7 linked regions of the Homo sapiens genome follow. The protein of the gene in region 2 purifies or fractionates together with the protein of the main gene of each other region. This does not show direct contact. Each region holds a gene or a part of one and is shown on either strand. Other genes may lie near its edges. The genes, in order: VAPA, PRKAR1A, ARFGEF1, ANKRD26, PALM2AKAP2, GPR161 and G6PD.

The links.
Region 1: the proteins of PRKAR1A (region 2) and VAPA purify together in Homo sapiens (affinity purification with mass spectrometry; 3 studies listed by BioGRID and IntAct, with this or other methods). This does not show direct contact.
Region 3: the proteins of PRKAR1A (region 2) and ARFGEF1 purify together in Homo sapiens (affinity purification with western blotting; 2 studies listed by BioGRID and IntAct, with this or other methods). This does not show direct contact.
Region 4: the proteins of PRKAR1A (region 2) and ANKRD26 purify together in Homo sapiens (affinity purification with mass spectrometry; 3 studies listed by BioGRID and IntAct, with this or other methods). This does not show direct contact.
Region 5: the proteins of PRKAR1A (region 2) and PALM2AKAP2 purify together in Homo sapiens (affinity purification with mass spectrometry; 3 studies listed by BioGRID and IntAct, with this or other methods). This does not show direct contact.
Region 6: the proteins of PRKAR1A (region 2) and GPR161 purify together in Homo sapiens (affinity purification with mass spectrometry; 3 studies listed by BioGRID and IntAct, with this or other methods). This does not show direct contact.
Region 7: the proteins of PRKAR1A (region 2) and G6PD purify together in Homo sapiens (affinity purification with mass spectrometry; one large-scale study listed by BioGRID and IntAct). This does not show direct contact.

Annotation. Positions count from the first base shown.
Region 1 is NC_000018.10:9,955,516-9,959,015, forward strand, and holds part of VAPA (vesicle-associated membrane protein-associated protein A), read left to right. Parts: 3' UTR 1-3,500. UniProt on the Homo sapiens protein: Endoplasmic reticulum (ER)-anchored protein that mediates the formation of contact sites between the ER and endosomes via interaction with FFAT motif-containing proteins such as STARD3 or WDR44.
Region 2 is NC_000017.11:68,525,930-68,529,429, reverse strand, and holds part of PRKAR1A (cAMP-dependent protein kinase type I-alpha regulatory subunit), read right to left. Parts: intron 1,591-3,500; coding exon 1,530-1,590; intron 561-1,529; coding exon 439-560; intron 1-438. UniProt on the Homo sapiens protein: Regulatory subunit of the cAMP-dependent protein kinases involved in cAMP signaling in cells.
Region 3 is NC_000008.11:67,225,282-67,228,781, reverse strand, and holds part of ARFGEF1 (brefeldin A-inhibited guanine nucleotide-exchange protein 1), read left to right. Parts: intron 1-517; coding exon 518-558; intron 559-649; coding exon 650-819; intron 820-1,183; coding exon 1,184-1,335; intron 1,336-1,472; coding exon 1,473-1,645; intron 1,646-2,598; coding exon 2,599-2,759; intron 2,760-3,500. UniProt on the Homo sapiens protein: Promotes guanine-nucleotide exchange on ARF1 and ARF3. Promotes the activation of ARF1/ARF3 through replacement of GDP with GTP. Involved in vesicular trafficking.
Region 4 is NC_000010.11:27,013,495-27,016,994, forward strand, and holds part of ANKRD26 (ankyrin repeat domain-containing protein 26), read right to left. Parts: intron 1,218-3,500; coding exon 1,000-1,217; intron 1-999. UniProt on the Homo sapiens protein: Acts as a regulator of adipogenesis. Involved in the regulation of the feeding behavior.
Region 5 is NC_000009.12:109,783,198-109,786,697, reverse strand, and holds part of PALM2AKAP2 (PALM2-AKAP2 protein isoform 3 (PALM2-AKAP2)), read right to left. Parts: intron 1-3,500. UniProt on the Homo sapiens protein: Binds to regulatory subunit (RII) of protein kinase A. May be involved in establishing polarity in signaling systems or in integrating PKA-RII isoforms with downstream effectors to capture, amplify and focus diffuse, trans-cellular signals carried by cAMP.
Region 6 is NC_000001.11:168,126,931-168,130,430, forward strand, and holds part of GPR161 (G-protein coupled receptor 161), read right to left. Parts: intron 1-3,500. UniProt on the Homo sapiens protein: Key negative regulator of Shh signaling, which promotes the processing of GLI3 into GLI3R during neural tube development.
Region 7 is NC_000023.11:154,540,347-154,543,846, reverse strand, and holds part of G6PD (glucose-6-phosphate 1-dehydrogenase), read left to right. Parts: intron 1-1,394; coding exon of another isoform or gene 1,395-1,583; exon of another isoform or gene 1,584-1,635; intron 1,636-2,455; exon of another isoform or gene 2,456-2,609; intron 2,610-3,500. Other genes in the region: IKBKG (NF-kappa-B essential modulator), read right to left, coding at 1,395-1,583. UniProt on the Homo sapiens protein: Catalyzes the rate-limiting step of the oxidative pentose-phosphate pathway, which represents a route for the dissimilation of carbohydrates besides glycolysis.

The sequences.
Region 1 (3,500 bases), on a different chromosome or scaffold from region 2:
TCTAGTACAAGTGAATTTTTATTCTTAAACATAGGTGTGTTGGCTCTTTTTTTAAAAGATGCGCTCTACCTGAAAAGGAAATTGGATTTTAGAACTGGATGTGGTGCAGTGAAGTATTTTAGGCCCAGGTCTGTGTACACATTTTATAGAAGAATGAAGTACTCTGAAGTATTTTGGTTGCCTTTTCATTTCAACTGTGTTTTGAATTTGTCAGATCACACATATATTGTGTTATTGGGCGCTGTGGTATCTTTTATAAAACCTCTTGCTTGTGTGCAAAAGTTCCTAAAAGGAAACACAAGTAATGCCTATCCATTACTAGCATGCTATGCTGCATGCTTTACTGCCATTGCTGTATGCTTTACTGTCTTTGTAAAAATCCCCCTCTCCCCTTTTCTGGTAACTGGAAAAGCATGCTAAAAATAGTCTTATATTTTCACCCCATAAATGCAGAATCAGTAATTCCTTGGCTTAAAGCTCTTATATAATCAATATTATTGGTGGTAAATACCAAGTTTGGTATCTCATAGCTATCTTTTTTTAAAGAAATTAAGTTCTTGAAAATTTAGCCAAATCCCGTTTTATGGGAATGCTCTTTAGAATTCATTTTGTTCAGCCCCTTTGTTCTATGGTTGAGAAATCTGAGGCCTTACGAAGGTTAAGAGAACTTTCCCCGTGTCTCACAGGTAGGTAGAGGCAGAGCTGGAACTAGATATCTGGTCTGTTGACTCTAGCTCAGTGTCTTCTGGTAACTGTTGAAAATTGTCTTAGTTTGAGAGATGGCTGAAATAATGAACATAAAATGCTATTTATAATAACAAGTATATGTGAAATTTCTTATTGTAAGACTACTACCGGCTTACTGTTGAATAGTTTGGTTATAGTGTTTAGGCTAGAAATGCCTCCCACATTGGTAATAAACATTACAAAATACAATGTATTTTTAGGTAGGCATTTTATAAAATGCATTATGCCATGGTTGCTTTTGAGATAGATTGTAGTCTGGGTAGCATCTTTAAAATGTATGTGGGCTTAACTGTTGTTCATATCAGGAGATGCTCTGATTGTATAGGTGAGACTCTGTTTCTGTTATTTTTAATTGCTGTATGAAATGTGATCAGATTATTTTACTACCAACAGTTATAGTTTGAAAGTCCAACTGTATTAATTGACTGATAATATGATAATATAGAGATTAAATTGTTTGTCTTCATTCCTTATATGTTTAGAAGTTTTTGCTTTGTCTGCCTGCTTACTTGTATATGTAAGCATGAGGGAAATACACTGTTGCTAATACTGAAATTACAATCAAGTAACTAAGGCCTTGAGTTCATATGTGACACTGAATGCACTAGCTTCCTTCGTTCTATAACTAATGTACCTTAACTTCCCCCATTCTTATATTTACAAGAAGCTAAGTCATTATGTTCTGAGTGTGTGGTATGTTCCCTTAAAAAAAAATGACACTTGGAAGAAAAATGTATGAAATTCAGAAATTCCGATCAAAGAAAAGTAATTCTTTCTTTTTTTTTTTGAGACAGAGTCTTGCTTTGTTGCCCAGGCTGGAGGGCAGTGGTGTGATCTCACCTCACTGCAGCTTCCGCCTCCTGGGTTCAAGTGATTCTCATGGCTCAGCCGCCTGAGTAGCTGGGATTACAGGTGTGAGCCAACAAGCCCGGCTAATTTTTGTATTTTTAGTAGAGACAAGGTTTCACCATGTTGGTCAGGCTGGGCTCAAACTCCTGAATCCGCCTGCCTCGGCCTCCCAAAGTGCTGGGATTACAGGTGTGAGCTGCCGCACCCAGCCAAGAAAAATAATACTCTTAAATACTTAGATGTTCACCTAAAGTTGATATTATTTGGTATGGGAATTACTTTTGAACTGTAATCTTTCAGATTACACCACTTTGAAAACAAGTTTTAACAGTAGGGTAAAAATATAGTTTTTGAGGGTATTCCCAACTTGTGATCTTCTACCACTTTAGAGACATTCAAGTAATAGTTTTCTTAGAGCTTTGCACATTCCTATTCACTGAGATTTTAAAAATTTCACCTTTATTCGAGGGAAGGATCAATGCTTATTACCATTTGGAAAAACGAAGATCAGAAGGTAAATGATCTTTATTTTCTAGCTTTAAAGGGAAATTAAACCATTCATGAATAAACTTTAAAAATGTGAAGTGTCCTTTTCCTTTTCACAATACAAAAAAAATTTCAACAGATTGTGTGGTTTGTGCATTTATATCCTGTTAAGCATTAATAGCTAATCACTGGGACTTGAATTCTGATGGCAGATAGTCTCTTGCTTAGTGAGATGGAGTTAACTATTTTTTAGTAGGAAGTGAGAACAGCTGATTTTCATGCCACGTTTCATAGCCCCACTTTTGGTAGACTACCACCACGCTTCTTCGCGTAAGCAGTGGCATCTTGGGAATGAATGCCCAGCCGCTCGTGGGTTGGTGCAAAGAAGTATAAACATATATCACTAAGGAAAAAGAAAGTTTGTCTTGCCCTTCTGACACAGTGTGTGCACTTCAGGCAATTTTTGGAAAATATAAAAAATTCCAAATTCTGCCTTTCAGCAGCATCAATTGCTAGGAACATTTCATTCATTTCCCTGTAATATTAATGTTCTTTAAGCATAATCACTAATTATAAGTTGTATCCTATTTTTTTCCAGCTTAATTTCTGTGGTTTATTGAAAACCAAGTATAAATGTGACTAAAAGCATTTTGCTTTGTTTTTATAGTTAACTTTCTTAAGGTTATGGACATTTTATAATGTAACATTTGATTGGCCTGGCCTCTTGACAATTCCCTTCTAGTTATGCATATCCTCCTGTTGCCACATTTCTTGTTTTAAAACTCAGTTTCTTGTTTTCCAGTTGTTGCTATGTATAACACCCATCTTGAAAGAGAGTATATAGGAAGTTATTCAGATAACTTTTGTAGTAGTGATATTCAACTATAGCAGTACCTTAACTCATGATGAGCTTAGGAACATAAAAGATAATTGTTGCTTGAATAGCACCCCCAGAGATACTGACCTAATTGGTCTGGGGTGGAGATCTGGCATGGTAGTTTTTTTCAAGCTCCAATCATCGGCCAGACAGTTGCTTTATGTAGGTTTTTAAATGCCAAAGGCAGATATGAAGTAGATTTAATTAAGACTTGACTTCAGCAATACAGGGGAACTTAAAATACTTATTTTTCTTTAAACTGCAGGAGTCACTGTTAGGTATTGCTTAAAAAAAATTGCATAAAAGCTTTGCTTGTCAAGTTAGGATTGCTGGAATACCACTAAAGATTTTTGACTTGTGAATAAATGAGCTGTCATCGCAAAAAGGCGATTTGAGAAATGTGGGCTTCAGTATTAATTGCCATTTTGCTGACACCCAGTGTACCTACCTACCTGAGAAATTTATTTTGTCCATCATGTATTTCTCAAAGCAAAAGGTGGTTTTCAAGTATAATGTCGTTTTCAACATGCTTATTACTTAG
Region 2 (3,500 bases):
CCGCTTAGCAAGAGTATCTGCTATACATTTCCATGGAATGTGGAGATATACAAACACAGTAATTTTTCAAATTTAAATAATTACCTTTAATCCTTATTTGCCAAATAGCCCAAACACTTGCATTTTAACAAGAATAGTGCAGAATCATCACAGTTTGTTATGTTAAATGGTTTTTAGAATTTGGCTTTTCATGTCTAGGGCCCTTCAAGAATTCTGACTCAAACTCATTTAAAAATATAGTGACCTGGCAGAAAACCAAACAACAGCATTTCAAAGTAAAAGATAATTTTAAAATAAAATGGTCAGGTATTCTTAAAAACTAAAGCTATAGTTCAGAATTAGCCCACTCTTTCCCTCTTAGAGCGTACAACTTTTTAAAGTATTAAATTCTGAGTTCTTTACCTCTAAAATTCAAGTATTAAATTCTGAGTTCTTTACCTCTAAAATAATGAAGAACTCATCCCCTGGTTCTCCCTGCACCACAATCTTCTGCCCATCTTCAAACTGCACTGGTTCCAATGCATCAGCTACCGTAAGACGTTCCCACTTGTCCAGAGACTCTGAAAGACAAGAATCAAAATAACTGCTCTGTATTATTTGGTGCTGTTATAAAGGTAAAAAGAAAGTATAAAGAGATTCAACCAAATAGCCATGCCCATTCAACATTCTAGTAGTGTCTCAGATTAAAAGTGGTACCTGTCTTCAATTACCTCTAGTCTGAGCAGGATTCTCATACTGCCTGCAGATAGCCCTTAGATCCTTACTTCGGTAGCCCAGTGGCTAGGTTAATTTATACCAACTGTACCAAATGGCAAGGGAATAAGAAAATGTAATCCTTAAGTATTCCTGAAGATTGCCATCAATGCAAATCAAACCTACAACTACAATACTCAAAAGTCATAGTTTCCCCATCCATATCGTTCCAAAGTTTCATAGAAATAATTTAATCTATTTAAATTCTTGGTTTACTTTATGAAAAAGAACTAGAAAATAACTTTTATTCCCAAAGGCCAAACTACTATCCAAAACACAAAGCATATGTAACCAATTCAAAGAAAAGACAAAGAAGAGGTGAAAAATTCACTGTAATAAACAATGGCAGAAGCCTGTTACCTTATAAAAATCCCCATTCCCCTTTCATGAAGAACAAGTTCTAACATCTCCAAGTCCACATAACAAAATGCACAAAAGAATATCTTCAATTAATCTGCTTTACTCTAAATTTCAACAAACTTCTGGCATGTTTTCAGAGGATGCCAGCAAATGATACCTAATCTTTCCACAGAGGAAATGTATTGTTGGAAGTACTCACTTTTCTGAACCAATCAACTCAATGATGGAACAAGAGAGACGGGAAGTCACAGAGGAAATAACTGTGAATGTCCACAGTCAGAAGGACTTTCAGCCCTTCTGTCTTTTCAGGGGGAATGAGTAGCAATTATACTTTCAGAAGGCTTTTCCCAAGTCCATCCAATTCTAATTCAGGGGTATCTCACATACTAGCAAAGTTAACACACTTTACAACTCACCTAAAATAGAGACTTTACTAAGGAATTCCTCATACATCTTCCGCTTTCTCAGTGTGCTTCCCTAAAAATAAAAATAACAAAAGTGATATCCCCAAGACGTGTAATTATCACCACATAATGCTATGGAATAATAAATATTAAGTTTCAAATAAATTTTAAAACCAGAAAGTCAAAGCTTGTTGCTTTTAATGAGGAAAGTTTAATTTTAACTAATTCATTTTTATTTTACAGGTAATGAATGATATGACATTCTTGTGATTTTTATTTTCCGCCAATATTATGCCCAATTCCTAGCATTTGCAACCAGTATGTTGACATATTTCACAAAGCATTTCCCAACTTCCAAATACAGTCGAAATACCGGTTTATACCTGAGCCTATCACTCAAGATATTTTTCCACACACTTTAAACCAATGTCCAATTTCCATGTTTACTCTCAAACTGATTTTGTGCCACTGCCAACCCAATTTATCTCTGAAAATATTTTCTCACAAAAGTAATCTAGGTCATTTACAACCCAATAATCCTAGTGTTCTTCCTGTTCAACGCTGGTATTTAAATGCAGATTCCTCCATTAGTTCTGGCTTCTCACCTATACAATTGACATGTCTTTATTCTATAAAAAAAGGACCATATCCTCCCCTACCCAGCTATATAGATATTTCACCCCATATCTACAGTTCCTAATTCCTGTCCACAAAGCCAAAGCATTGTGAGGCCCTAATTTCCTTTCAGGCCCACTATGAGAAAGTAAAATATTTTATTTCAAACCAATAGTTCCAGGTCCTACCTCTTCCTTCTTTGACAATGAGATAAAGCTGTAAACATTCTATGTTTCCTTTTACTAATAGTATTCCTGTAGAGGAAATGCAGAACTAACTGTATGGTCAGTTTCTTCTCCAGTAGACTGTCACATCACTTCAAAACCAATCTTTCTAAAATTTAGACTTATCTTTGCCATAAGCGTTTTTTTGTGTGTGTGGGTTTAAGGTTCAGGGGTACATGTGCAGGTTATATAGGTAAACTGGGTGTCACAGGGGTTTGGTGTTCAGGTAATTTTGTTGCCCAGGTAATAAGTAAAGTACACCACAGGTATTTTTCCTGATCCTCTCCCTCTTCCCACCCTCCACCCTCAAGTAGGCCCCAGTGTTTGTTGTTCCCCTTCTAGTATCCACGTGTTCTCATTGCTTAGCTCCCAACTGTAAGTGAGAACATGTGGTTTGGTTTTCTGTTCCTGTGTTATTTTGCTTAGAAAAATGGCCTCCAGCTCTATCTATGTTGCTGCGAAGGACAAGACTATCTATCTAATCTAATCTATCTATATATCCCAAATGCAGAAAAATTTCAAAGTACATCAGGCTGTACATTTTCAAATGGTCAGATGGACACTGCACAAATTTAAGAAAACCATTAAAAATGACCAATGCATTGGCTGAGACTTAAACATCCAAAGCTATCCTATAAATTTATCACAACGTTCTCAAAAAATCTGACTATCACCAGAAAGTTCCAATGGTTTTAGTATTTTGTTTATTCCTTTAACGAGAGGGGACATGACATACATATACATTACTGATAACCCACTTTCACAGGTTAGGGAAGCTGATTATTTCTGAATGGCCCCAAATAACTTTAAGCACTTAAAAGCAGCACCTATCATGCTGTAATGGGTATAACTAGGTAAATTAAGATGTGCCTACCAGCAAATGGATAGATTTCCAAACATGAGATGACCAGCACATATATACCAGATCTTGTTTCCCAAGGTTTTGTTCTAAAATATCACTGCCTAAAATGGCATAATGAATAATGCTAAGCTGGGCTTAATGCAAAGTATTTGCTCATTAAAAGAAAAATATTCGCTTATTAAAAGAAAGAAATATTTGCTCATTAAAAGAAATATTCTCTTTTTAATTTGGTAATATTCAAACATTAGTTACGTAGATGAGAATTCTAAATCACACTCTCAA
Region 3 (3,500 bases), on a different chromosome or scaffold from region 2:
CCTAAGGAAAGTGGTTTGGCCAATTCTTGGGTAAACTGAGACTATTTGCAAGGTTATATTAAGTCACTTTTAGTGTAAATGAACTTTCTAATCAAATATACTTTACTGGTAAAAATACGTCAAATTTTTCATTTTAAGAACTTGCTTAATGCTAGACAATAATCAGGAAAGAATCTGTAGTGTGCCAATTATTAGTTTTACAAATTAATATTTTTCTTATTCTTAGAATCTCATATCTATCCGGGGTTTGTAAATCTGATAAAATTACAGCAGTATATACTTACCCTAATAATAATATTGAATGTAAACTGGTTCACATGGAGTAGAGGTGGAGGGGAGGGAGAAACATCCAGACTACACTTGTTACTAAACTAAATGATGAAAAATACTCATTTGAATACCCAATTTTTTGTTCCCTTAAAACATAAAAATAGCTAGTACCCCATGCCACATACTTTTCAATTGGAATAAGAACAGTAACTTATAAATTTTTTAAATTGTGTTTTATTTTCCCTAGAATATTCACAGGATCTACAAGGCTAGATGGAAATGCCATTGGTAAGTATGGGCATTTATTCTACTTCGGAACTGGCTTGGGGCTAAAATAACTTTAATGTTGAGCTAAAAAAAAAATGTATTTATATTACAGTGGATTTTGTCCGTTGGCTCTGTGCTGTGTCTATGGATGAATTACTTTCCACGACACACCCAAGAATGTTTAGTCTACAAAAAATAGTAGAAATATCATATTACAACATGGGAAGAATAAGATTACAGTGGTCTCGAATTTGGGAAGTTATTGGAGATCATTTTAATAAGGTATTTGAATAACTATGGTGTTTGTTTACATTTGTAGTATATTTTTTGTTTAGAATGTCCTTGTAATCAAATTGAGCCTTTTTCCCTTCCAAGCAATTATTTATTACTTTTTAATATTAAATTAGAAAACCCTGTGAATGGTGTTTTTCTTTTTAGAAATGATTGCTCTGGGCTTTAAGAATTTGATTTAAAATATCTGTTTTTCTTGTTGAGAAATAGTTTTAGCATACTTAATGCCTTTATGGAAAATCTTAGGATTTACCTATCTATGCTATTCTATACTTTTTCTAAAACAAAAAATAAAGAATTGTAGATTTTTACTGCTGATATTAATTAGCATCGTTTATTTCTGTCGCCATTACAGGTTGGGTGTAATCCTAATGAAGATGTAGCTATTTTTGCAGTAGACTCCTTGAGGCAGTTGTCAATGAAGTTCTTAGAGAAAGGGGAGCTTGCTAACTTCAGATTCCAGAAGGATTTCTTAAGACCTTTTGAACATATAATGAAACGGAACAGGTACTATATTTGTTGAATTGCTTAATAGAAGGAAAATCTTGTTGTTTTCCACAGCAGGGAGAAAAACAGAAGAAAGGGGGAAAAACTGATGAGTTTTATCGGTTTGCATATCCAAGCAATTATATTAATATTTTTAGGTCTCCAACAATTCGAGATATGGTTGTACGGTGTATAGCACAGATGGTTAATTCTCAAGCTGCTAACATTCGATCTGGATGGAAGAACATTTTCTCTGTATTTCATCTAGCTGCATCTGATCAAGATGAAAGCATAGTGGAACTTGCATTCCAAACAACCGGGCACATTGTCAGTGAGTATTCTCTTAGCTGTGTTCAAGTAAAAGGAAAAAAAAAAAGCAACCTTAACGTGTTCAGAAGATGATTCAAGTAACAATAAGATTATGGCCTTTAAGTTTACCAAGCTTTGTCTACAGAACCAGAGTAAATAAAAACAATTAAATTACTATTATAGTTAACATTTATTGAGTATTTACCATATGGCAAATACTGTGTGCACTTTTCACGTAATTTCTTTAATCTTCACAGTTAAACATTATTGTCCATCCCTTTTTTCAAAATAGATTAGGAAACTCAGCCCCAGAAAGGTTAAGCAGTCTATGTAAGGTCACAGAACTAGTGATGGAGATGGTCTTGAGACCCATGGAGTATTAAAGCAAAGCCTTTATTTTTGACCAGTAAGTACATTGCACAGCCTTCTTCAAGGAGGAGTCCCCTTAAGTTCAAGGGGGACTGACTGAAATACTAAGATTATAAGTTAAGCCTATATGGAAGATGACAATGATGACCATCAACATCAAGAATCATGGCATCATCATAGCTATCATTTATTGCGTGCTTGCTTAAGTATTACACTAAGCACTTCACTTATATTATTTTACGTAGTGCTTACAGCTATCTGTGTATATTATTATTATTTCCATTTTATATCAAGAAACCGAGATACAGAGAGGTTAAGTAATTTTGTATATTCATTCAACCAAAGTTGAATCAGTACCTACCGTGTACCAGTCACTGTATTAGGTGCTATGTTTATAATGTAAACAAAACAGACAAGTTTTACTATTCTCACCACTCAGGGCAGTCAGTTAAGTGGTAAAGATAGTCTTGAACTTCGTATCTGTTGGATGTCAGAACCTGTAACAACCTTTAAGAGGAAGTGCATTACATCTAGATGTTGGTGTATTTTTGGTACAGCTAAGAATAATTGAAAAATTATAGTAATATATATTTTTCTCTATTTTAGCCCTTGTATTTGAAAAACACTTTCCAGCGACCATTGATTCTTTCCAGGATGCAGTGAAGTGTTTGTCTGAATTTGCGTGCAATGCAGCTTTCCCAGACACAAGTATGGAAGCAATTCGACTTATTCGCCATTGTGCAAAATATGTGTCTGATAGACCTCAGGTATAGCGTCATTTAGTAAACAAAATTTTGCAGAGTATTCTTTCCAATTTGAAATCTTAAGTTTGTTTGGGAATTGAGGGTATATGAAGCATTTATTTTTCAGTAATTTGAAAAATAATCTGAGCAGCCTGATTCCAAGTTAGGATGGTTAGTGATTATAACTAACCATTATTGAAAGTGTCAGGTATTTTTCTGAGTGTTTTTCATTAACTTGTATTAACTTGTTTAATCTTCTAATGGCTTTATGGGGTAGATAGTGTTATAGCCCCATACAGACAAAGAAACTGAGGCACAGAGAAATTTTAAAATGTGCCCATAGTTTCAGGGCTAGTAAAGTAGAACTAGGGTTTGAGCCCCAGCCTGTGTTTCTAACCATTCCCTACAGTGCATCTTGTCTGTCTGTGCTGTGTAATACTGAAGCTGACTGACTATGGATGAGAATAGGCTTAAGCTCTAAAGTAAAAGGTTGAATTGAAAATCTAGCTGCCATATTTAACTTGTATATTTGAATCTATCTTTGTAACTGTCATAAGAGAAAGTGATGTATCGTAGATTTGGTAATAAGATTTTATTCCGTACTACCATGGACCGATCAGGTGCTTGGTACTTTTTAGATACGTCAACTCATTTCACCTTCATACTTCACCAGTGTGGTTAATGTGGCTGTCTGGTATCATAACCATTTAAGTGATAAAAATGGAAACCTGAATTAACCTGGCTAATAATGCAGAAAGCTGGTGA
Region 4 (3,500 bases), on a different chromosome or scaffold from region 2:
ATGTTAATTTGCTTGACTATAATAACCATTTCACCATGTACAAATATATCAAAAACATCATGTTTTGATACATACAATTAATAAAACTAATAACAAAGGAAAAAGCCCAGCTAAAAATACTTGTATTTAGTAAACCAGTTTAGAGATTAAAAAATTCCTCAAGACATGTGCAAGCATTTGCTTTCACCACCCTTTTACATTTATTTCACCCATTATCTGGAAAAATATTAGGCATCTGGCCCCAAGGAATAATTCAGAGCAAAAAATTGTAGGGGAAAAGAAGATAGCTGAGTTGGTGATCAAAAAGAACTAAAGAGTCTCAAAGGCAGTTAGCTCCTAACATTGTCCCCAAGGCATCAGAGGTGGGGCCTGACCTGTTTTCCACACACTCCCTCAGGCTGACCAAGGTGTTATTTTTAACCACTTTATAAAATATACTTCCCTTCATCCCTACGTTAATCATTCCCTATTTCACTAGCATGCCTTTAAGTAGTAGAAAAACTATACAGGGTAGTTTGTCTCATGGCACCCTGTAGTGATAATACCAGATATCACAATCAAGGAAAGTTCATTTATGGAGTGCCAGAATGTGCAGAGTAGTAGTGATACTTGACCCTTCTGGTTTAAGTTGTAATTTTCCAAAAAACAGCCCAACTCATTAATAATTATATTTATGGCAATGCTGATAAGCAATCTGATGACAATATCAATGTCTAAATTACAAAGTTTTAAAAGCACATAGCTGAAAGACATAGATCCAGTTAACTACCTAAGAATATTAACGGAAAAGCCATATAAAATTAAAAAAAAAAAAACAGAGGAAAGACATAAACTGTCCTGGACTCACATTTTAAAGGTAAGTTAATTTACTAACATTTTCCAAAATTATATTACCTATTTAGCTTTCACTTCCCATTAATCTCATGAACCTAAGAATTATGCTTTCAAGGCAAATTAATGAGCTTAATTTATTTCCTATGATTCTATATTTTGACTTACTTGGTTAGTTTACTTGACAAAGATTTTCTAACTTTTAATTCTTCTAGATAGAGTTGCTTATATTTTTCCAGTTCGGTTTTATTAAAGTCTTCTTGAGAAGTTTTTATTTTGGAGAGTTCAGATTCCAGATCTTTAATTCTGAGTTCCATCTGACTTTTCATTGAAGCAAAATTATTCTCTCTAAACTGCTCTAAGTTTTCTTGAGATGCTGCTTGTGCCTAAAACAAATTAAAAGCATATGTTTTAAAAATATATAACCTGAGTAAGACCATGGTCACCTACTCGGTGTCTAAGGGCTGTTTTGTTTTTAACCCAAACTCCAAAAAGAGAAAGATCTCTGTGCCAGCAGGCATTGGTCAAAGAGATAAGAGGACATCCCAGGGTTCTAATTGAAAAGGGAATCCAAATACTTCCAAAGAAATGAAAGTGAGTTTCTACTAGAGAAGCATTTTCATCCTTGATGAAGTAATCAAAACAATAAAGGCTGACTGGCAACCCAGATGTCTAACGATGGGGGGAAATGTCATATAGAAAATAAAAAATTATAATTGGTAACATAAGGAAAACCTAAGAAAGAAAATGACTACAAATGTGGAGATATTTTCGAATGAAAAATCTTATAAAAATTATTTTTGTGTTAAAATATATTCATGGGGAAGACTTGAATATGCTTAAAAATTTTGATGTGATATTCCATTTTATGAATACACCTGGCAAAGTAAATTAAAGCAATCATCTGTATGTAAGATACAGGAACTTAGAGCTTCTTAGGGATAAATGCTGTGCGCATCAATACATGCTGAGAAAAAAGCCCAAGGTGTTGGATCTCTTACAGTAATTCTACCTGCTGGAGCATAAGGTTATGGAATCACCTGGACTACAAGTAAAGGAATGTGGAGTGTGATCCTGAGCCTGACTAGCTCTATGGCTTGGGCCCTGCTGTTTAACCTTTCCCTAGGTCTCTTCATCTGTAAAATGGGAAACTACACTGGCTTATCACTAAGATTTCTTCCTATTCTCATTCCATGTCTCTAAGAGCTAACATGCAGAGCTTTGTAAGACTATCATAAATACCATGTGAAGAAATCTGTGTTATCATGGATTGTTACCACCTTGGCCTTGTAGATTGTGTTCCAAGACTCCTATCTCTCACTAGCCTGAGGGAAGGGAAAGAGCTGAGAATGAGGAGTGAAGACTTTCTACTCTCACAACGGCTACATATTTTCAAGTGGCCCAGTTGAAATTTCTCTGTTAATTTTCACATCCTTTCCACCAGTTTGCACCCTCCATCCTCTCTCATAAGCACAGGGGTCCCACGCAGTTCTCAATCGCTCTTTATCCCAACTAAAACAAATTTGTTAAATTATTGAGTTTTAATCACTCATAGACACACAAACTCATGTTATTAAGTAGATTTTTATCACTCACTCAGACACACACACACTCACACACTCATATACCCATGTGGGTAAGAGAGGAAAGACATTCCTTTGGCTTTGTTTATTTTAGAGACAGGGTCTCAGTCTGTCGCCCATGCTTCAGTTCAGTGGCACAATCATAGCTCACCGCAGCCTTGAAAACTCCTGGGCTTACATGATCCTCTCACCTCAGCCTCCCAAGTACCTGGGACTACAGCCATGCACCACCATGCCTGGCTAATTACTTTTTTAAATTTTTGTAGAGATGGGGTCTCACTTTGTTGCCTAGGTTGGTCTTGAACTCCTGGGCTCAAGTGGTCCTCCCGCCTCAGCCCTCAAAGTGCTAGGATTACAGGTGTGAGCTACCATGCCCAGCCTAATTTGTTTGTTTTGTTTTGTATTTGAGACGGAGTCTAGCTCTCACCATCTTGCCTCACTGCAACCTCCGCCTCCCAGATTCAAGCAGTTCTCCTGCCTCAGTCTCCCGAGTAACTGGGACTACAGGCATGTGCCACCACGCCTGGCTGATTATTTTTTTAAATTTTTTAGTAGATATGGGTTTTCACTATGTTGGCCAGGCTGGTCTGGAACTCCTGACCTCGTGATCCGTCCACCTCGGCTTCCCAAAGTGCTGGGATTACAGGCATGAGCCACCGTGCCCAGCTTTGTTTTTTTTTTTTTAAGGCAAAAACAACACAAGTTGTGTTAAAGTCCCAGTGGTTTCCTGGGATGAAGTAGGGGGAATTAACTGCAAAAGGGCAAGAGAGAACTTTCTGGAAATGTTCTCTGTTGAGAGGGTGGTTAAGCAAGTATATACTTGGGTCAAACTGTTAAAATGGTTGTGTTTAATTATTTGTAAATTATCCCTTAATAAAATTTAATTTATATAAAACCTGGGTAATTATTGTGTATTTTTTTCCTTTACTTTTGAGTTAGTGATTCAGAGAGTAATTTTAAATATGTGAAAAAAAAGCTGAAGTTTAAAATATTTATCAGCCAGGTTTGGTGGCTCATGCCTGTAATCTCAGCACTTTGGGAGACCTAAGCAGGAGGATCACTTGAAGCCAAGAGTTCGAGACCAGC
Region 5 (3,500 bases), on a different chromosome or scaffold from region 2:
GTAGCAGGGAGGTGTGTGACCCTTATGCATGCTGGGTAAGGCCTGCCTTGGCACTCCCAGACACAGCAATGACCCTGCATGGGCCCAAAGTGTCACCTATCCAGTGGGCAGCTTCACAGACTCAGCCAAGTTGAACCCTTCCTCAGCACCAATATACCACGCAAATGATTTTTTAGGCCTTAACATGGAATTTTAGAAGCAGGGTGTCATCTGCATCTCTGAGATATAAGATAACAGATGAATGACCAGGATCTTAAATTCTCCAGTTCTCTGACAGCTGCATACCAATAACACAAGTCCACAAGGAACATGGATGGGGATGGTCCCCACATGAATCACAGTGCCTGTTTCTACAGGGCTTGGGTTTGAGTCTCTAACCCCTCTGAGGGATCCTTGGGAAGCTGGACTGGATAGTATGTAAATCATTGCAAGGACTTTTTGCCCATGCTGTGCAGGTCGGCCTAAAAGGCCTGGACCAAAAGCAGGGTGGTGGCCTCCTTGGCCACTGGCCCCACACTCCAAGCCTGGTACTCAAGGCTGTAATGCTCCCAGGCAAGAAAAGGCATGGAGAGGCGAATCCAACGAAAAGCCAATGAGCACTTCTCTGTAAGCCCACGGCACAGCCAGCCTAGGCCAACAGCGTATACCCAGGTCTATGCAGGACTGAGAATAGAATCAGATGAAAGCCATAAACTCACTAGCTGACCCCTTGGTGAGAATTTCAAGAATGAAAGAGGCCGAAAGTGAAATCCTAACAAGGGCATATTCCATAGAGACACATCCAAGCTCACTCCTCTCCTCCCAGCCAGAAGATTTTAGTCCAGCAGGATCTTAGTTGCAGTTTCAGCCCGTATCAAAGCACCCTTCCAAGGCTGGATGTACCACTAACACAAGTGATACGGTTTTGCTGTGTCCCCACCCAAATCTCATCTTGAATTCCCACGTGTTGTGGGAGGGACATGGTAGGAGGTAATTGAATCACGGGGACATGTCTTTCCCATGCTGTTCTTGTGATAGTGAATCAGTCTCACGAGATCTGATGGTTTTATAAAGGGGAGTTTCCCTGCACAAGCTCTCATTTCCAGTCTGTTGCCATGTGAGATGTGCCTTTCACCTTCTGCCATGATTGTGAGGCCTCCCCAGCCACGTGGAACTATAAGTCCATTAAACCTCTTTTTCCTTATAAATTACCCAGTCTCGGGTATGTCTTTATCAGCACGGTGAAAACGGACTAATACAAGAATTGGGAGTCAGGAGAGGCTGGGATTTACTACAACTCTTCCACCTCTATCTGTGTAAGCTTGGATAGCTCTGAATACTCACCTGTAAAGCGTATAAGATTTGCTCTACACACCTCAGGAAGAAGGTAGCATATACAAGGTTTTCATAAATTATAAAGTACTGCACAAATGCAAAGATCATTTTTATTACTTCACAGAGTGGGTTCTAATTAAATGACAAAATTCCCTAAAGAACAGCATAGGTTAGATTAGCATTTCCTATTTCCGCACATATATAAACATACTCATGCTGGTCCCTGGTGTAGCCTGAGCCTTGTCCACGTGGCTCTTAGGAGTTTCACCCAAGACAATTTATATAACATTTACTTATTTTCACTCATGCCCAAAGAAAACTATCTTCCTCTCCAATGTGCAGACATAACAGCACCCTCCCACAAGGTTAGTTTCCACTGAGACACAACAGCTTCTTCCCCATGGGAATGTTACTCGTTCCATTAAATTTTATGTTGGGTATTTCTATGCACTGAATCCAGGCTTGAAAGACTCTCAAAAGGAGGTAGGCCTCCTGGCTTGTCTCAAGCTTTCCCATTGCAATGGAATCAGTCTGTGGCTCACACTCAGGCTGCTGAGACCACCTGCACAGTGTGCTCATGGGAAAAGTGCGAGACGCTGCCGCCATCTTGGGTGGCAGCTCAGGGCAGCAGTCAAAGCAAAGGCTCCAATGGCCTGCTGCGGGCAGCATTCAAATCCTGGCTTTGATACTATCAGTTTAATGTTAGACCAGTTCTAGAACCTCCTCACCTATAAAATATGAGTAATACTGTAGTGCCTACCTCATAAGCTTCTTATTAGGATTCAATGAGATAATACATGCTGAAAAGCATTTCAGTGTTCACTCTGAGTTTGTGTCTTTAGCTACTGACTTAACTTCTTCATGCTTTTGCCTTTCCCTTTCTCACACTAAATGTCCTGAATAAATAATAATCAAATAACGAATAAACAAATGCCTCCTGGTAATTGGGAAGGTTATGATGTTATTTTATATTTTATTTTACCCAATTTTCAGGACTTACTCTAATGTCTTCTTTTTGGGGAATTGTTTCACAACTCTGAGATTGGTTTACATGTTCCTCCTGGATGCTCATTTTCATAGTACTCCTGGATAGTAACTGCTTATGTGCTTTTCTATTTCTTCCATTAGACTATAAATAACGTTAGGTGAAAAACAAAAAGTATTTCACACCGTGCCTTTCTGAATGAACAATATTCAATAAATGGCAATTGTTGTTATTAGTCCCTGGGATTACCATTCTCACTCATGCTGTTTCAGAGGCTTTTTACCATGTTCTAAATGTAAAGTTTGGGGAGTATCCCTACAGAAGAAAGGAGCATGTGAGTGTAGAGATCATTGTCAAAGATGGACTTGCTCTTCTTTTGGCAGAAATTAGGATAAGAGTCATCTTTTCTCATTGATTAGTTCCTGGATCCAAATGGAAGATTCCATTAAAGCACTGTAGTTTCTAAGTATTTAATTCAGTTTTGTTGGTGGGGGCGGATATTCCACAGATGTTCATGTGACAAGCATCTTAGGTATCAGGACATCTGTCCTTCAAGAAATTATGTGCAAAAGGTGAAATAAAGGTTTCAGCCTCAGGCAGCTGAAACCTGGGGACACCAACTTTTCAGTGTTGCCAATACCTTCCCAGAGGAGGCAATCTGTAAATACCTACTGAACAAATGGATGAATGAATCCTCAAGTCATATCTCTGCCTCTGTCTAAAGCAGTTAGAGAAAGTGATGCTGGGCAGGGCCCTGACTTTCAGTCAGTTGAAGGAAGGGATTAAAAAAGAGCTGTTCAGACCAAGTATAGTGGCTCATGTCTCTAAACTCAGTGCTTTGGGAGGCAGAGGTGGGAGGATCACATGAGGTCAGGAGTTCCAGACCAGCCTGGGCAACATGGCGAAACCCCATCTCTACAAAAAATTTAAAAATTAGCTGGGCATGGTGGCACATGCCTGTAATCCCAGCTACTGGGGAGGCTGAGGTGGGAGGATGGTTTCAGGATGCAGCGAGCTGTCATGGCAGCACTCCAGCCTGGGTGACAGAGTGAGACTCTGTCTAAAAAAAAAAAAAAGTCATTAATACACATTCCACTTCAGAGATGTTGCTTCTGACCCCCCACAGGACAAGACAGCAATACAGACAAAAGCTAAGGGCTCTGCTCAACACCATCCAATGACAGCTACCTGCCAGGTGCTT
Region 6 (3,500 bases), on a different chromosome or scaffold from region 2:
CCTTGGAATCTTTACCAAACCCAGGTCTGAATTCCCTGTGACTGTGTGTGTGTCTCTTAATCTCTCTGAGACTCAATTTCTCCTAAGACAAAAAAGAGAGTAGATATACTCTACTTTATACAACTGCCAAGAGGAATCTACGAGGTAATGAGGGTAAAAGTACGAGCAAAAAGGTTGTCAGAAGATAAACTCAAGGAATGTTTACAAAAATTACTTAAGACATGAAAAGAAAACTCAATTCTTTTTTTCCCTTTCAAATTTTAATTCAAGCTGGCCGGGCACAGTGGCTCACACCTGTAATCCCAGCACTTTGGGAGGCTGAGGCAGGTGGATTGCCTAAGGTCAGGAGATCAAGACTAGCCTGACCAACATGGTGAAACCCTGTCTCTATTAAAAATACAAAAATTAGCCAGGCATGATGGTGGGCACCTGTAATCCCAGCTACTCTGGAGGCTGAGGCAGGAGAATACTTGAACCCAGGAGGTGGGCATTGCAGTGAGCCAAGATGGCGCCACTGCACTCCAGATTCGGTGATGCAGTGAGACTCCATCTCATTAAAAAAAAAAAAATTTAGTTAAAGACAGAGAGGTTTCATTCAACTACTGTATTAGTCTGTTTTTATGCTGCTGATAAAAACATACCCAAGATTGGGAAGAAAAAGGTTTATGGACTTACAGTTCCACATGGCTGGGAGGCAAGGAGGAGCAAGTCACATCTTACATGGATGGCAGCAGGCAAAAATTCCCATTTTTAAAACCATCAGATCTCATGAGACTCATGCACTATGAGAACAGCACAAGAAAGACCCACCCGCTCCCATAATTCAATCACCTCCCACTGGGTTCCTCCCATGACACATGGGAATTGTGGGAGTTACAATTCAAGATGAGATTTGGCTGGGAACACAGCCAGAGCATATCAACTACTTGTTGATGCGGAAGAGATGAAATGGAAGACAGAAAAGATGCATTGCAAGAGAATGCAAAGTGGAAGTGTCTTTGACTCCATAAGGGGCTCAGGGCCTGAAGATTTAAAGCCCCACTATAGGAAGATGCCCCCTCCCAGAACTGAGCTGCTGCAGCTACCACACAGATGCTCAGGCTGAGGGTTGTGGGCACCCAGGTAAGCAGCTGACTGAGAAATATGAAATTTTAATTTACCTCCACCTGTAACTGTGGGGCTGATATTCCATGCTTCCTTTGGCTCAAAACCCCTTCCCTGAAATTGCATATATTTTCTTTTTAAGCAGAAGAGCTGAAATGATATCAGTGAAAAGAATGAGGTTAGCTGGGGAGGGTCTGAAAATATCCAAGCAGTAGACACTGGATAATAATCAAACCCACTCCCTACCTCACTATCCTACATCACTGATTCTCAATCCCCATTCTCCAGATCCCGCACCTCTGGAAATGCCTGGAGACATTTTTGGTTGTCACACCTGGGGGATGCTATTGGCACCTAAGGCTGGGGATGTTGCTAAACATTTTACAATACACAAGATAGCCCCCAACAACAGAGAATTATCCGGTCAAAAACGTCAGTAGTGCCGAGGTTGAGAAAACCTGCTCTACACAAACAATTTGGGTTCATTCTTCTCATTCTGTTTTTTACTGTATGTACTTAATAAACAGATCAAGAAAAATAAAACAAGCCCTTCCATAACATACACATGCTCTGAGAAGACAAGAGATGGAAGCTGTGCTGAGAACAAGACTGAGATGATTACTTCTATCACAAGATAAAAAATAATGACTACGTGAATTAGTTTTTACCCTTAATTATTTTTTATTTATTATCCTCATCAAGCCAGGCAAACTAAGCCCATATTCCTAAAACTATATTATTTTTAAATAGCTGAAAGGAGTACATTTTTTTCTGATGGCCATATGTGAGATGGATGCCTCAGGCACAGGGCTGTCCCCTCCCTCCCTCACCATGATAGCCATACTGCCACTGGTTTCTGGACACTCCTATATTCTTGTTTTCCCATTCCTCACTGAGCTACACAAAATACATTTATTGAAGAGCTGCTCTGTGCCCAGCTCAACTCTACAGCTGGGGCATAGCCCTGAACAAGACATGTTCAAATCTCTCCTATCCTGAAGCTTACATTTTGGAGGTGGGGATACAGACAGTAAACAAATAAATTTAAAAAATAGGAAACAATTCTGGGTAGTAGGTACTGTAAAGAAAGATCAAACAGGGTAAGCAGAGAGGGAATGGGTGTCTGGGTCAGGGGTGGGTCATCAGGGAAGGCTCTCCAAGGACATGACATTTGAGCAGAGACCAGAAAATGATGCGAGGGAACCTCAGGCAGGCCAGAGAAGAGCCCTTGCAAAGCCCTGAGGCTGAAATGAGCTCGGCGTGTTTAAGGATTAGCAAGAAAGCTGGAGAGGAGTGAAGAAGAGAACAGCAGACTTTGGAGACAGTCGGGGGCCAGATTACAAAAAGCATTGCAGGCCTGGAGAAAGAGTGTGGACTGGATTCTACATGTGAGAGGAAGCCACTGGAGAGACATGACTGACTTACACTTTCAAGAGGTCACTGTGCCTGCTGCTGGGTGAAGGGGGGACTGCAAGGGGCAAGTGTGGAGGCAGGGACCCCAGTTAGGAGGCCACGGCTATGGCCCAAGTAGAGACAAAGGCTTGGACCAGGGTCATGGTAACAGAAGTGTTAAGAAATGTTTAGATTCACTAATCTCCTTAAAGACGCCAACATTTTGGAGCTAAAAGAGGCCTTCAGAGTAATTCATTCTAGTCTATCATTTTACAGATGACAAAATGAAAGCCCAAGGGGCTGAAATGAGTTACCCATAGTCATAGACCTAATTACTGACAAAGCACAAATTTCCTGACTGCCATCACTATACCTCTGCCCTTACCTGGCCAACCCAGGGCTGGGGTGGGCAATGCAGAAGACAGGTAGGCACAGGAACCCTCTAGAGGGTAGTCCTAGCCAAAGTCAAAATAAATGACTCTCTTTGCTTTGGGCAAGGTCACCCTAACATCCTAGCCAAACCCAATGGGCCCTTATTGAGCTCTCTGCAGCATCTGACACTTCTGACTCCTTTCATTTTTTTGAGACTCCCTCTTCCCTTGTCTTCCCTGAGCTCCTCTCTCCTGTCTCTCCGTCCTTTAGTTCCTTACCAGTCTTGCTTACCTGCTAATCATCCTACCCTGTAAGCGCTGCAGTTTTCCAAGATGCCCTCTGGGGCACTATTTCTTCCTTTCTCATCTACAGAGGAAATTAACTGTCGGCCTCCTCGATATCTCTTACCCTTGTCCAGCAGTTGCTCCTCTGGAGACCCACCCTTTTCACACACCACATCCATGTGGCTTCATGGATGTGGACACATGACCTATGCCTCGCCAATCAGCATCTTCGAACTTCCTTTGATGTAACAACAGTGTTGCTGAAACAGCTGGGAGAAGGACAGTTCCCCTTTCACATTGGATTTGAACCTGCAGCTTTCCCCCTTGCCAGAGCTGCTGGGGATCACC
Region 7 (3,500 bases), on a different chromosome or scaffold from region 2:
TGGCACCCATCTGTAATCCCAGCTACTTGGGAGGCTGAGGCAGGAAAATCGCTTGAACCCAGGAGGTGGAGGTTGCAGTGAGCTGAGATGGCACCATTGCACTCCATCCTGGGTGACGGAGTGAGTGAGACTCCATCTCAAAAAAATAAAAATAAAAAGAGCCATACCTGCATCAGCCACAAACCTTAACAGCCAGGACTCTGACCGTTAAACCCTTAGTCCAAGAAGCAGACTGGAGGAGAAGGTAACTGAGGTTGCTTTCTCCATCCCCACCCCATGCTGTCACAAGGCACTGCAACAGAGCAACCCAGGCCACAATGATAGCTTATGACTCCTGGCCTTCAGCTCTTATTAGACACCTCATTGAGAGCATCCAAGCTTGCTGTGTGAGTTGGAGCAAGTGTCTTCCTTTTCCTGAACCTCAGCATTTCGTGTAGCAAATGACAGCTTTTGAAACGAGGGCCCAGGGTCCTTAGGCTTTTCCAAGCTGATTTTGTCATTTCACTGCCTCCGCCTGTGGCCAGCTTCGGGTTGGGCAACTTTGTTTTGTTGAAATCAGTAGGGTTCCCCTTTGCTCTCCTCTGTTCTGAGAGTGACAACCTGAGGCTTTCAAAGCAGAAATAGGAAGTGCCAGCTCCAGCACTGTGGGTAGGGGACAAGGGGTCCTCTCTCTGAAGAGCCTCGTGGTTTGTTTTTTCCTCTTCCTGCTGTGGGGGAGATGGGAGGTGGCGTGCTCAGGCAGCACCTGGAACAGCTCCGGCTCCCAGGCTTCTTCCACGCCTGATGCCTCACTCGGTGCGGGAGGTAGGCAGGGTGGCACTTGAGGGCACGTGATCCTAGAATCTGCTGTTCCAGGAAAGCAGCCCATTCTCCGTTCATTGAGCAGACAGCGATTGGGTACTTCTGGGCCACAGCAGCCAGTCCCTGCCCTCCTCATGGGACCTATGTGCTATTGCGGCCAGGGAACCACGGCAAGTAAGCAGACCAGCAAGAGTTCAGGCTGACGTGTGTTTCAGAAGATACACATGGGCCCTGTGTCCCCAGTCCCCCAAAGCGCATAGATCCCACAAAGAGGGCCGGGAGAGCACAAACACAGAAGGAAGAGCAAATGCCCGGAGCCCCGAGTTGGGAACAAGCTCAGCATGACCTAGAAACTGAAAGCAGGCAAGTGGCTGGCAGACCCACAGCCTGGGCAAGCAGGACACCCTGGGGCAGGCTGGACCCACGTGGCCTTCCTCTGTCCCTTCCTCCTCCCTGGCCAGCTTACCTCACACTTGCCCACACACCCAGCTTCCTTCCTGGGGGCCCTGATGGCACCTCAGAGTTACCAAGTGGGCCACTTCCTGCCTTCTCAGGACTCCCACCCCTACCAGAAAGGGAGCCGAGGTACTTACTGCCCCCTTCCAGAAAGCTCTGGCCTTGTAGACTAGTGTGCGCCTGGAACAGCATCTTTCCCCACCTGATGGGACCTCGATGATGCTGGAGAGCTTCACAGGGAGTGAGGGGAAGAGACTGGGATTGATAGTCTGCGGGGTCCTCACTTCTCTGGGCCTTAGTTTCCCCACCTGGATCACAAGGGCCATGGGCTTGATGGGCGTTCAGGACGCATCCCAATGATGGGCCTGTGGGAGGGATGACCCAGCGGCCCCCGCCTCCCCTTTCCTCAGAACATTTCTGGGCTGACTTCCCCATTGGTCTGATAAGATTCTTGCTGTGTCATGATGATGTTGGCACTCCCCCAAAGCCCCGGTGACTCATGAGCCCCCGGGTATAGCAGGGAGGCCCTTTTGTTGGTTTTTCAGCTGAACTAACTCAGCAGCCCCCAGGTTCTCTGGCCCCAGTGGCCAGGAACCAGCTGGGCCCCTGCCAAGGCCCAGGGCTCCACCCAGGGAGTCTGGGCAGGTCCTTAACCCCAGTGACCCTTGGGGATGGGATGGCCCACCCCCGCTGGCCCTCCAGCAGGCATCGTGCTCTACCATGAAACCCTCATGCCAAGACAAGGGCTGCAGCGATTTCGGTTTATAAAACAGACAGGTCATGGCCCAGGTCCCTTTGCCCTGGCCTAGCCAGATGTTGGTGGCTAGAGATCTTCATCATGCCCTGCTTCTACTAAGTCACCTTGTGTCCTTGGGCAGATCCCTCCCCTGCTGTGGTCCTCAGGAAAGAGGAGGGCGTGGGGAAGATGAGAAGCTCCCAACTGCTTTTCACTAAGGACCCCTTGAATTGCCCCCACCCACATGGCACGAGTAGACTCTTGACCAAGCTGTCAGGTTTCCCGATGTCTTCCCATGTTTGTTCCTCCAGAAAGTCCCACTAGAGCATCGCAGCCAGCTGGGAGGGCAGGGCTACCCCTGAGTCCTGAGGAGAGCAGCTCAGTCCGGCTCAGCTCAGCTTAGCTCCCTGTCACCATGGGAGAGAGCGGCCTGCCTTACCCCACCCCTACTGTCCGTCTTACCTCACCTCGCCTCTCAGGTGACTTGGAGCCCAGCAGACGGTCGGTCGGTTGCAGGGCCTGAGCTGAAACAAGGTGAGCCGGTTCAATCTCTAGTTAATCCCAAAGGGAGCAGCAGGAACAAACGGCCTGGAGCGTGGGGTTGCTGTGACTCAGCAGACCAGTCCCCTGCCACCAGTACCTTTCTGGAGTCTGTCCCGATGCCTCCCAGTCTTCCGGAATTTGGTCATGAGCAAACATGACCTGCTTTGAGTGAGGCTTAGAGGTATTTGCAGGCTGTGGTTCTTTCCGTTTATTTCAGGGTCCAGTTAGTTCCCAGTAAGCTGACCCTTTCTGTGTGGGGCCAGCCGTGAGTTGATGTGACATGGGCAACGTTCCCCTCCCCAGCCCCACTGATGGCAGGTGCTGTGAGGAGCTGAGTAGAGGAGCTCCTACCCCAGGGCGAGGGGTTGTCTGCTGGACTTTGAAGGGTGCAGCAGTGAGAGGTCCGTGTCGCTGTAGTCCTGGCACCGAGCTCACCTGAGGAGCATCAGAAGTGGAGCAGGGCCCCTGAAGAGCGCAAGCACACAAGGCACCCACACCATAGCAGTTGCCCTCCTGGAAGCCCTGTGGTGGCTTCCTAACTGCCTGGCTCTGGGTGAGGGCGTTTGACCTGGTGGCATGGCCCCCATTCTGTAATGGTTTGTAGAAATGGACCCATCCATGGTTGCAGTGCCTGATTGCTTCGAAGAGCATGTGTTTTTTTTTTTTTTTTTTCGTGACATGGAGTCTTGCTGTCACCCAGGCTGGAGTTTGGTGGCGCAATCTTGGCTCACTGCAACCTCCGTCTCCTGGATTCAAGTGATTCTCCTGCCTTAGCCTCCTGAGTAGCTGGGATTCCAGGTGCCTGCCACCACATCCAGCTAATTTTTGTTTTTTCTTTTTTTTGAGATGGAGTCTTGCTCTTTCACCAGGCTGGAGTACAGTGGCGCAATCTTGGCTCACTGCAATCTCCACCTGCGAGGTTCAAGCAATTCCCCTGCCTCAGCCTCCCGAGTAGCTGGGACTA